Linked DNA regions of Homo sapiens. The protein of the gene in region 2 purifies or fractionates together with the protein of the main gene of each other region. This does not show direct contact. Each region holds a gene or a part of one and is shown on either strand. Other genes may lie near its edges. The genes, in order: STX18, VAMP4 and NAPG.

Region 1 (3,656 bases), on a different chromosome or scaffold from region 2:
ATATACTGTTTGCTTAAAATACTAATAAACTAGAAGCAGCCTAAATAGCTTTCAACAGGGGTTCAGATAAATCAATTATTTATTACTATTTTTAATAGCTATGCAGCCAAATAAACTGGTGGTAAGAGCAATACATACTGATATTTAAAAATTTCCAAAATACATTGTTTTCTACAATACTGTTATGTAACCCCTCTCTACTCCCCCAAGGAAGAGGGGAGGGCATATGGAGAGGGATTACATAACCGTATTGTAGAAGAATCTTGATTTTATTTAACAGAAAAAATGTTTGGAAAGTTAAACACCAGAATTTTAACTATGGCTATTTCCTGACACTGGTACTAAATGTGAACTATTTTCTTCTTTATTCTGTTTAATGAGCACTTACTAATTTTATAATCAGATTTTAAAATAGTCAACTTCAAAAATGTGCCCTGCTAATAAAATTCCATTATAAAATTATATCACCACTTTTAAATCAAATACATTTGTGAAAACACACCAAAAATGCTAACTTTGAAAACAACAACAACAACAACAAACCAAAACAAAAAAAAAACCTCACTCTTTCAGAGACTCAGGGAAAATATCACAAGGTAATGGGCAGTTATCACTGCAAAAAGTATTTAAAAATACATCCTGGGACTTTCAGATAAAGAGTACTGAGTCATGCAACCATCTCATTGAAAAGGTCCTTATGGATTATCTAGTCAAAACCTCTCATTAAAAAAATCAGAAGAGTGACACCCAGAGAGGTTAGGTGAGTTCTCCAAGATCACATAGTAAGCTATTGGCAAAGGCCAAAAGTATTTACAATTCGAAACGTACACTTTTTAATTCCTTTCTCAATTCCTCTGAGTTAAGATATGCTGTAGCCTGTTACTTCTGCTAAGACTATAGAATTCACTGCTGGAGAAAATGTCCAAGAAAAGGCAAGTGTTCATTTCACCAGAGTTTTCTTATCATTTGACTACAAATTAGATAGAAATGTTACAATATTGTGAAATGGAAGTGTCTCTCTCTTGGTTAAATACAGCTTACAAATTCCATGGTAAGAACATTTTGACAAACAGACATATGTTAGATGGTGATAAGTAGAAGCTGGCAAACTTTAGTATTCATAGTCTTTGAGGATCTGAAAGTCTGTAACAAAGAAAAAAGTATTGCCGGGTTTAAAATTTCAACTGTGCTGCAAGCTTTCCATATCTGAGTTATTGGGTTCATTCAATATATCATACTTTCATTCCTCTGGTTTATTCACTTTCTTTTAGAGGAGTTTTGAAGTTGCCTCTTTTTAAGTCAATATTAAATGTAATACGCTTTAAACATAAAATGGTTTTCATACCATAAGCCATAATTAACATGTGTAGACTTCACTGATACTTTACCCACCAGAGGGAGTCCATGTGGATTTCCATGTAGTAAGAGACGTCAAACATCAAGTTTACATGAATTCAACAACCACATTATTCATAATACAATCAATATTATAAAATCACTCAATAATATATTTCTATCCCCTGAAAAAGAGAAAAATTAAATGAGATCGGGCACATAAAGTCCTTAACCGAGTTCCTGACCTATAGCAGAAGCTCAAAAATGACTGAGTTTCCAAAATCTGTATTCTTCTGCACATTAGTTACAGTGCTTACAACAAATTAACTGGTATTCTGACTTACACACAAGTTGACGTGAGCTTGGCTGATATCTGCCCTAACAGATGGCTCTAGCCTCAATATGTAGAAAAATCTGGTTCTTGGGCCTCCAAAATGAAGCCAGCCCCTGATGGGAAGAATTCACTAAAAACGTCACACTGAGAAGACGTGTTTCTGCAGCCCTACCCTAGTAGGTGAGACACATAATAATTGGTCAACTGCCAACTCAAAAGTGAGGAAAGAGGGAACTCTTTGACACACTCCAGATTCTTCATGGAATGCAGGAGAAAATGAATCAACTATCCCTGAGAATCATGCTTCTACAACATGTGATATAATCATTAACCCCAAGATGAGTTTCATTCAAGAATAAAGAAAGCAGAACTGAGAATAACAGGAGAGAACCTGGCATCCACACGGGCCATCCTAAGTTTCTACCTCCTTGTACTTCTCGCCACCATAAGTCCCAGCCTAGTGATGGCCGTATTGCTGAGACAGGTCTCAATCTCCATGCAACTGGCTGGGCATAGGTACATAGGCACTGGGTATCTATTTTGTACTCAACTGTCTCCAAGGTCTAAATGTGGCAAAGCTGAAGGACCCCATTGAGTTCCTCAATCCAGGTTTATCAGTAAGCACTGCTGCTGGGGAGTTATCCACCACATGCTGTCTTAATAAAACTCCAGTGTCCATGGGCTCCTTGGATCTATTCTCTACTATTTAGAATTAAGAAGAAGGCATGAATAACTGGCACTCAACTCTAACCCTGAAAACTCTGTTATTGTAATCTTCTACCATTTAACTTTTCAACCAGAAAGCTGGAAATTATTCTACCTCCTCCTCTTTCTATTTCCACTAATTAGTTACTAAGTTTTACTAAGTTTGTTGAGCCTACCTACTAAATACTAAATACCTACTTCATCTATTTTTCTCCCATCCAACCCTACTGTCACCGGCTCCTCAGTTTCACCTGAATTACTGCAACAGCATCCTGCTTAGCTCTCCATGTCAGTCTTGTTACATTCCAAACCCATCATCAACACTGCGGATTAGTTTAAAATACAAACATGATCCTTTCGTGCCTCTGCCGCATAGCCCAGAGCATAAAGTACAAACTCCTCAGCACTGCTAACAACGCTCTCATCTAAGAGTTGGCAAACTTTTTCTCTAAAGGGTCATACAGTAAATATTTTAAGTTTTGCAGGCCTCTGCAGGCTATCGCTCTGCTGCTACAGCATGAAAGCATTCTTGGCCTATATTTAAACAAATGAAAATGACATATTCCAATAAAACTTTATTTACACAACTAGGCAGTGGGCCGGATTTGGCCTGTGGGCCAGTTTGTGGACCCCTGCTCTAACCTACTTCAGTACAACCTCACCCCCTGACACTCTGACCCTCACCCGGGCCTCCTCCAGAAAAGGGCTCTAGTCACACCAGTCTTGCCTCTGGCCCCAAACTGCCCTACTGTTGTGTGCCACTGCCTTTGCTCACACCCATCCCTTCTACCTACGTCTGGTGGAATGGTTTTTCTCCTTAAAAGCCAAGTTTGATGATCACTTTGAGGTTTCCACTGATTCTCCCCTAAAGAGATTTAGGTATCCTTTATCTATCTTTTCAAAGAACAGGTTAATATGCCTCATAGTTTTTTTATGGCCCCACAATGCCTGACACACCAGATGTTCAGTGTTTATTGGATGATGGTATAAATCAATTATTGAATAAATACATTTCAAAACTTACAGTCCTCCTAAGTCTTGGGCAAAATTCAGAAGTGTAATCCACACAAAGGACTCACAATCTCATGAAAACTCTGCAGTGCTGAGCTCTCCTTATAGTACACACTCAGTTATTGCAATCCATAAAAACACAGCATCATGAAGCTAAAACAGGCCCTGGAGAGCATTAAAGCAGTGGTTTTTAAACTGTGTGTCTCTGGGCCCTCTGGTTGGTTCCTAGGGGTTCCTCAAGGAGAGGGGGAAGGTAACAGAAGGGTAGTAG
Region 2 (3,656 bases):
CTGAACTCCTGACCCAAGGAAACTGTGAGATGATAAATGTGTGTTGTTTTAAGCTGCTAAGTTTATGGTAATTTGTTACATGGCAATAGAAAACTAATACACCCAGTCTAGTACCTGTAATCATTTATTGGTTCTTTGGTTCCATATCTCAAAATCCATTAGTTAGAATTAGGCTAAGTATGGAAATATTTCTTCACACCAACAGCTACCTGAGTAAAGCCCAAGTATCTCACCAATAACTAGATACTTCATTATAGAACCCTTCCCACAATGTGCCATCTATACCCAGGCTTAGGGTAGTGACTATTATCCCTCCTTAGGTCTTGAACCTGGGCCATGCAGTTCACATTCCACAGTTAGTCTTTACAGCTTGGTCAGTTTCCAGAGCCTTCCCTCAAGTGACTCACTGCTCTGTCTATTCCTTCTCCCCTCCAGTCAGGACTCATATCTTTCCGATATCAGACACATTGATTACAGCATATTATACTCATCTATCACCAAATAATATATACCTCAAAGGTTTTAAACCACAAATTAGCCATAAAACTTAGTTCAATATATGGGTTATGATAAATAAGAGATATGAAAAAATTCTGGAAGTAGATAAAAACATGCAGTACATCAACAAATTAAAGCTATTATATTACCTTTGTTATCATTCTGAAAATAGGAATCAAGCTACAGATTTAAAACCAAAATAGACCTTCAGACTATGCTAAATAAATGGATTTGACATAAGGTAATCAAGTCATAAAAAAACCAACAATCCTGCATTTCCTTAGCTATAATTCTGAGAAAATAAAATGAATTAGGTTTTTATAACCCAGCAGTTATATTTAGTCTTCATCAGGGGTCAACAACTTTTTCTGTAAAGGACCAGACACTCAGCAGATATTTTAGATTTTGTGGGCCATAAAATGTGACACAGCTTTGTCACAACTACTCAACTTTGCCATTGTAGCTTGAAAGTACCTATCGATAATATGAAAACAAATGGGCATGGCTATGTTCCAATAAAACTTTATTTACAAAAACAGGCTGCAGCCAGATTTGGCTCACAGGCTGCAGTTTGCCAATCTCTAGTCTACACAGAAATATGATTATCATTTAAACAAATGAACAAAACTTACTGCTTAATTTTATCATTTCTAGGTCCAAATCTTGGTCCAGATGGTCCCCTTCTGAAAACAAGTACATACCAAGTACATATTAGTAGTGACAGGATTAAAACAAAACAAAAAAAAGATAGAAAGTATACACAAATACAAACAATCAAGCTGAACTCTAAACATGGATCAGTTATTTATCATAAGGGACCACATTTTACTGATACTGGTGAAACTGAATAATAGGTAATCATGTCTTTACTTCATTGGCACTTATTACTAGCCACAATTAAGCTAATTCTTCTGCATGTTAAAACTTTCAGAGAAATTAGGGTTTATATTATCTTATATAACAAACTTACACAGAATTTGTTCTGATCATTAAACTCTGAAATATCCTAACTACTTAACTGCTAGTGAATATTAATATCTTTATGGTCAACTGTAGAACTAAAAGCGCAATTCATCTTGAATTTAGACTATAATGAAATGAGGAAACTACAAAGTGAACTGCCGATTGACAAAGATGGATATAGAGAAAAATTCATTGAAGACACTAACAATTTTAAGTATGTTTTTGATTATTCATCTTAAACTTATCAACATAGCAAAAGGGAAATGCAAGATATTAAGAAAATTTTAACATTACTCAGATTATTATCTCCTTATTGTAGTTGAGTGTATATCACACCTTAACCAATCCATTTTAATATTCTTGAAATGAAAACATTTGGTTATTTAAAGTAATCATGATTCTTCCGGAGATACAGAATAAATAAGACATAAACTACAAAACTCAAAAGAAACCAGGTTCTTAGATTTCTAGACATGGCAATTTCTAAAGGAGGTGAAAAAATACAGCAATTGATAAAAAAATTTTGGAAAAAAAAACTGTTTACTGAAACTTATTTAACATAATGTATAAGTGTGAATATATCATCTTGCCTTAGTTCCTCTAAGCTTTTTCCTTAAAGTCTTTTAAGCTCCAACTAAGCCTCAGAATACTGGAACAGTATTCCATTCCAAAGTGATGTTAAACATTGAATTTCATAGAGAAAACTAATATTCTGAACCAGAGGCCATTCCTAAAAACTAGGCAAGAACTTACAAGAGCTGGTCAACCGAAAAACAAAGAAAAGCAGTCATTAAATGAGGAAACTATAAAGTGAAATAGAATCTGAAAAGTACTGAATTAAAATGATCCCCACTACAGGTTAAAAAAAAAGCAGGAGCTATGTCTGTTTCATCTATCAAGTAACATGAGACTTCAAAATACTTATAGAAAAACACAAAATGAAAAGCTGGTTCTTTGAAAATTAAAACTTGATAAACTTCTAGCCAGACTGATTAGGAAAAAAAGAAAGAAGGCATAAATTAGTAACAGGAATGGAAGAGTGAACATCACTACAGACAAATGTACCATGGTTATATAAGATTTATTAACAGAAGCTAAGTGAAGCGTAGATAGGAACTCTCTATACTATCTATGCAACCCTTCTGTGGGTCTAAAATTATTTTTAAAAAATCCCCCAAAGAAAATTCCAGGACTAGATTTGTTCAGTTGTCAATTCTACCAAACATTTAATGAAGAAAAAATAAGAATTCTATGCAAACTATTCTGGAAAACTAAAAAAGACAGAACTTTCCCAACTCATTATCCAGGGCCAGTATGAACCTACCACGAAAACCAGATAAAGACACAACAAGAAAAAGACATAACTATCAACCAACCAATACCTCTAATGAACATAGATGCAAAAATTCTTAACAAACTCTTAACAAATTGATTCTAACAATGTTTTAAAAGAATAATACATGATGACCAAGTAGGGTTCATATCACAAATGCAACGACGGTTTAAAATTTCAAAATCAACATAATTCAACACATTCACAGACCAAAAAAAATGATCATCTCAATAGATACAAAATAAATGCTTGACAAAATCCAACGTCAGCTAATGATAAAAACTCTTCACAAACTAGGAATAGGAGGAAACTTCTTCAACCTGATAAATCTACACACAACAACAGTAACAACATGCAATGAAAATGAAACATAATATGAAAGATGAATGCTTCCCCTAAAGGAGATCAGGAACAAAGCAAGGATATTCCCTCTCACCACCTCTACTCAATATTGTGCTGGATGTTCTAATCAGAGCAATAAGCTAATAAAAAATAAAAGGCAAACATAGACGAGGAGGAAATAAAACTGTCTTTATTTGCAGAAAGCATAATTGTTCTATGTTGAAAATCCAGTAGGATATATAAAAACACTACTAAAACTAAGTGGGTTTGGCAAGATTGTAGAATACAAGGTTAATTTACAAAATGATATTTATACTAGCAATAAGTATGACATTTTAAAATTTTGAAACACCATCTGAAATGTCATTTTTAGTAGCATCAGAAATTATGAAAATCAATGTGCAAAAATCACAAGCATTCCTATACACCAATAACAGACAAACAGAAAGCCAAATCATGAGTGAACTCCCATTCACAATTGCTTCAAAGAGAATAAAATACCTAGGCATCCAACTTACAA
Region 3 (3,656 bases), on a different chromosome or scaffold from region 2:
ATGTTTTACTCAGCTCTAAAAAGACACAGCCTGGCTCCCCACCCTCAGGAACACCAATTCTACCATTCAGATGGAAAAACAAAGCCCAACAATGCTGCTCCCCAGATGCCTCATGACCATGGTGGGACAGGTACACAACTAGTAAAAGTTTCAATTATAAATTTTTTTTAATTAAAACTTTAGAAATATATATATTTTCAAAACCTATGTAAGACGTTATTTAGAAAAAAAATTATCTACATATATCATTATAATAAACAACTGAAGGCCTTAAGTTGATCTGATACTATGATGATACTCTAAAGGCCTAAGGCCAAACAGGTACTTACAAATCTACTGAAAAAGACAAATGAGAAAAAATAAAAACTTATAGTCATGGTTCACTTTATGTGCAAGACATCATGTGAGGATATTTCTCACACACTGACTAATGTATTCTTCACAACAGTCCAGCAAGACAGGTACTAGTGGCTTCATTTTTACAAATGAATTAACTGAGGCTTAGAGATAATTAATGACCTGCAACACACAGCTAGTCCTCACAGATTTTCATAGGTCTACTGAATTACAAAGGCCACTACAGAATGGACCTCTTTCAGAGAGTCCGTCTAAAAGAAATGAATAAAAGCAACCTACAGAGGACAACAGATAGAGGAAAAGTGGAGAAATGAGCCTCAATTTTAAAATATGTATATGGTCAACAGAGTTAGATGGGTGAGTAAATGGCTATACACCACACAACTAACATCTATTTTATCTAAATCTATGGTGAAATTCAATGCAAGTGGTCAGTTTCCTTATGAGTAGTAGCTTGAGAAGAAAAAAAGAGGTAGGAAAAAATCTCTTAAGTACATGGGTAAAAAATAATCTCACTAGAAACCTCTTTCTTTCAAGAGAAAAGATGAAAGCTATGCAAATGGGTCCACTTACATCATTGTCCATGTACTTGAAAAGCGGTGAGTTGCAGACATCTGACACCTGATCTTGGTCTTGCTGGTCATAACCTTCAAGAAGCTGTTCCAGGGCAGCACAGTCTTCACTGCCATTGAACCCAGGGATGCTGCAGTAAGCACAAATCACACGTCTTCACCTTCTCCTTAAAAGAACACATCTCAGGCAGGGATGATTCTGCCCCTGGCATGTGACACTGTCTGGAGACATTTTGGTACTTAAAAGTGTGGGAATGCTAGTGGCATCTAGAGGGCAGAGACCGGGGATCCCGCTAACCAGCCTACAGTGCACAGGACAGGCCCGACCACAAAGAATTATCCAGCCCAAATGTTAACAGTGTTGAGATTAAGACTGCTCATGTTAAACACCGAGAAAATTCCTCATTTTGATTTCTGTAACATAAATCTGATAATTTTTTCCCCCTTTTTCTTGTTCTTTTTTTCTTAGAAGGCAAATAAAATGACTAAAATGACTAAAGTCATTCACTTCCATGGAGGTCCCCTAGAGAAAAATACAGGAAAGGGAAAAAAAAAAAAGGTGTAAAACACCCACTGTAAAAGATGAAATGGTAGATGAGCACTCCTAAGATTTAGAAATGACAGTTTCATGGCCAGGAACATGTGTCCTAGCAGCAATCTTAGTTGTAGACACAGAGGTGTCGCCACTGCAAGTCAAGAGGGCCCAGACAACGTCTTACCTATAGCTCTCCCGGACACATCTTTCTGCAGCTACATAGTCATTTCTGTGTAGATGAACTAAGACTTGAGCAATTGTTTTCTAAAACAAAAGAGAGGATCATGGTCAAATTTACATCTGTTTAATAAAGTCAATAACCTGGCAGTATTGAAAACACCTGGAGTTTAACTTTCAGAGTCTTTGTTTGTATAAACAGAGATTTATAAATGCTATAGTAACTTCCACGGGACACCTGAGGGGAAATATCCTAGAACAGTACTTTTCCAATTCTCATGTCCTGGAATTTGGCTGCTAGGGGCAAGCCTGGGATTCACCCATTTCTAACAAATTCCAGGGGGCACTCCTGCTGCTGGTCTGGGGACCGCACTTTGACACAAGCCTTAGATCACAACCACGTTTTAAAGAGATCTCTTTCAAATATCTACACAGATTCAATCTTGAAAAGTGAATAAAAAAGAAGTGGGGGGGACCCGTAACACCACAATGATACTTAGAATCCTTAAAAAGAAACTAGGAAAAAGATGTATGAGTGAAAACTTCAGATAACAGAAACAATGATAGTATTGATAAGTCAACAATAAAAGTAGTAATAAGATCAAGGATATGACTGATAAATTACTGGAAAAATAGGTCTTCATGAAGTATTTTTCCATCTTTTGGTGTCTCTATTGTTTAGGTAACTTTTACTGATCTATCTTTAAGTTCACAAAGTCTTCCTTCTGTCATCTCTGAGATTAAGCTTATCCAATTATTTTACTTCAATAATGTATTTGCCAGTCCTAAAATTCCCAATTAGTTCATTTTTATAGTTTCTATAAAAATAATTTTTCCTATAAAAAACAACAGGTCCTCTTTTCTATTCATTTTAATTGTGTTTATCTTTACCTCATGGAGCAACTTATAGTTGCTTCAGTCTTTATGTGATAATGCCAACAACCCTGGTCACTGCCGGGTTGCCATCAGTTGTCTTTTCTCCTGAAAACTGGTCATATTTCCAGGTTCTTGCATGTTGAGTAATTCTGGATTGTACTGTGAATGTGATGCTGCACAGCCTCTGCTTAATTTTCAGGAGAGTACAGATGTTTTCAGCAGGTAATCACCCCAGTTAGGTTCAGACTACATGTGGTGCCTTGTTTTTGGTGGATGGAAGTTCTACACTTAATTCAAATCCTTTGCTATGTGGCTTTGGGCCTGTTCCATGCATAAGCCCTTCAGAGGGCAGTGCAACACTTCGACAGTGATGAAATCTTAGCTCTCCAAGCTTTGCGCTGCACTGCTACTTTGAGGCCTGTCTCAGCACAGCTGAAGAGTAAACCCAAGACTTGTGTGGGCCACATCCACACTCAGGGGACTCCGTTTCCAGCTCTCTCCTTTCCGGAATTTTCTCCTTGCTCTCTAGCTCATTTTCCTAGTTCCTCTGGCAAAAGAGACTGGGGTCCTTGTGGAGTTTTATCAACCTGAGCCATCATCACAGTGTAGCTCCATGCCTGGGACAAGCTTGGAGCAAAGCCAAAGGAGAGGAAAACAATGGGACCTCTTCTCCCATTGCTGGTTAGAAAGGCGGGGTTTCTTTTGGAGTTTTCATTGTTGCAGCCTTTGCTGCCCAGCTCCACAACTGTGGGCTTCTCTCAGGGCAGGGCAATGAATGCTGCAAGAGGAAATGGAAAAAAACCCGAGAAACTCATTCCCATGGTGGTTGTTTCTCCACGTGTTTGCTCCTCTCCTTAGTCTCTTTTTATTTACTTTTCAGAGTTCAAGGGTGGTTGCTTTTGTATTTTATCCAGTAGTTTAGCTGTAATCAGCAGAGAAACAAGCTGTAGTGGGCTTACTCTATCTTGGTCAAAAATAGAGGCCCATGAAGTATTATTTTACAAAAACATAGAAATACCCATAGAATCCTTTCTTAAGTACTTATTCATACCAGTATAAAAAATCATCTAATGTAATACCAAAAACAAACACTTTCAAAGAATACCTTATAACAAGTTGGATAATTCTCAATTTCCTTA

Evidence for each region.
Region 1: the proteins of VAMP4 (region 2) and STX18 purify together in Homo sapiens (affinity purification with mass spectrometry; 3 studies listed by BioGRID and IntAct, with this or other methods). This does not show direct contact.
Region 3: the proteins of VAMP4 (region 2) and NAPG purify together in Homo sapiens (affinity purification with mass spectrometry; 3 studies listed by BioGRID and IntAct, with this or other methods). This does not show direct contact.

What each region holds. Positions count from the first base shown.
Region 1 is NC_000004.12:4,531,925-4,535,580, forward strand, and holds part of STX18 (syntaxin-18), read right to left. Parts: intron 1-3,656. UniProt on the Homo sapiens protein: Syntaxin that may be involved in targeting and fusion of Golgi-derived retrograde transport vesicles with the ER.
Region 2 is NC_000001.11:171,718,041-171,721,696, forward strand, and holds part of VAMP4 (vesicle-associated membrane protein 4), read right to left. Parts: intron 1,182-3,656; coding exon 1,131-1,181; intron 1-1,130. UniProt on the Homo sapiens protein: Involved in the pathway that functions to remove an inhibitor (probably synaptotagmin-4) of calcium-triggered exocytosis during the maturation of secretory granules.
Region 3 is NC_000018.10:10,546,371-10,550,026, reverse strand, and holds part of NAPG (gamma-soluble NSF attachment protein), read right to left. Parts: coding exon 3,623-3,656; intron 1,729-3,622; coding exon 1,649-1,728; intron 1,061-1,648; coding exon 931-1,060; intron 1-930. UniProt on the Homo sapiens protein: Required for vesicular transport between the endoplasmic reticulum and the Golgi apparatus.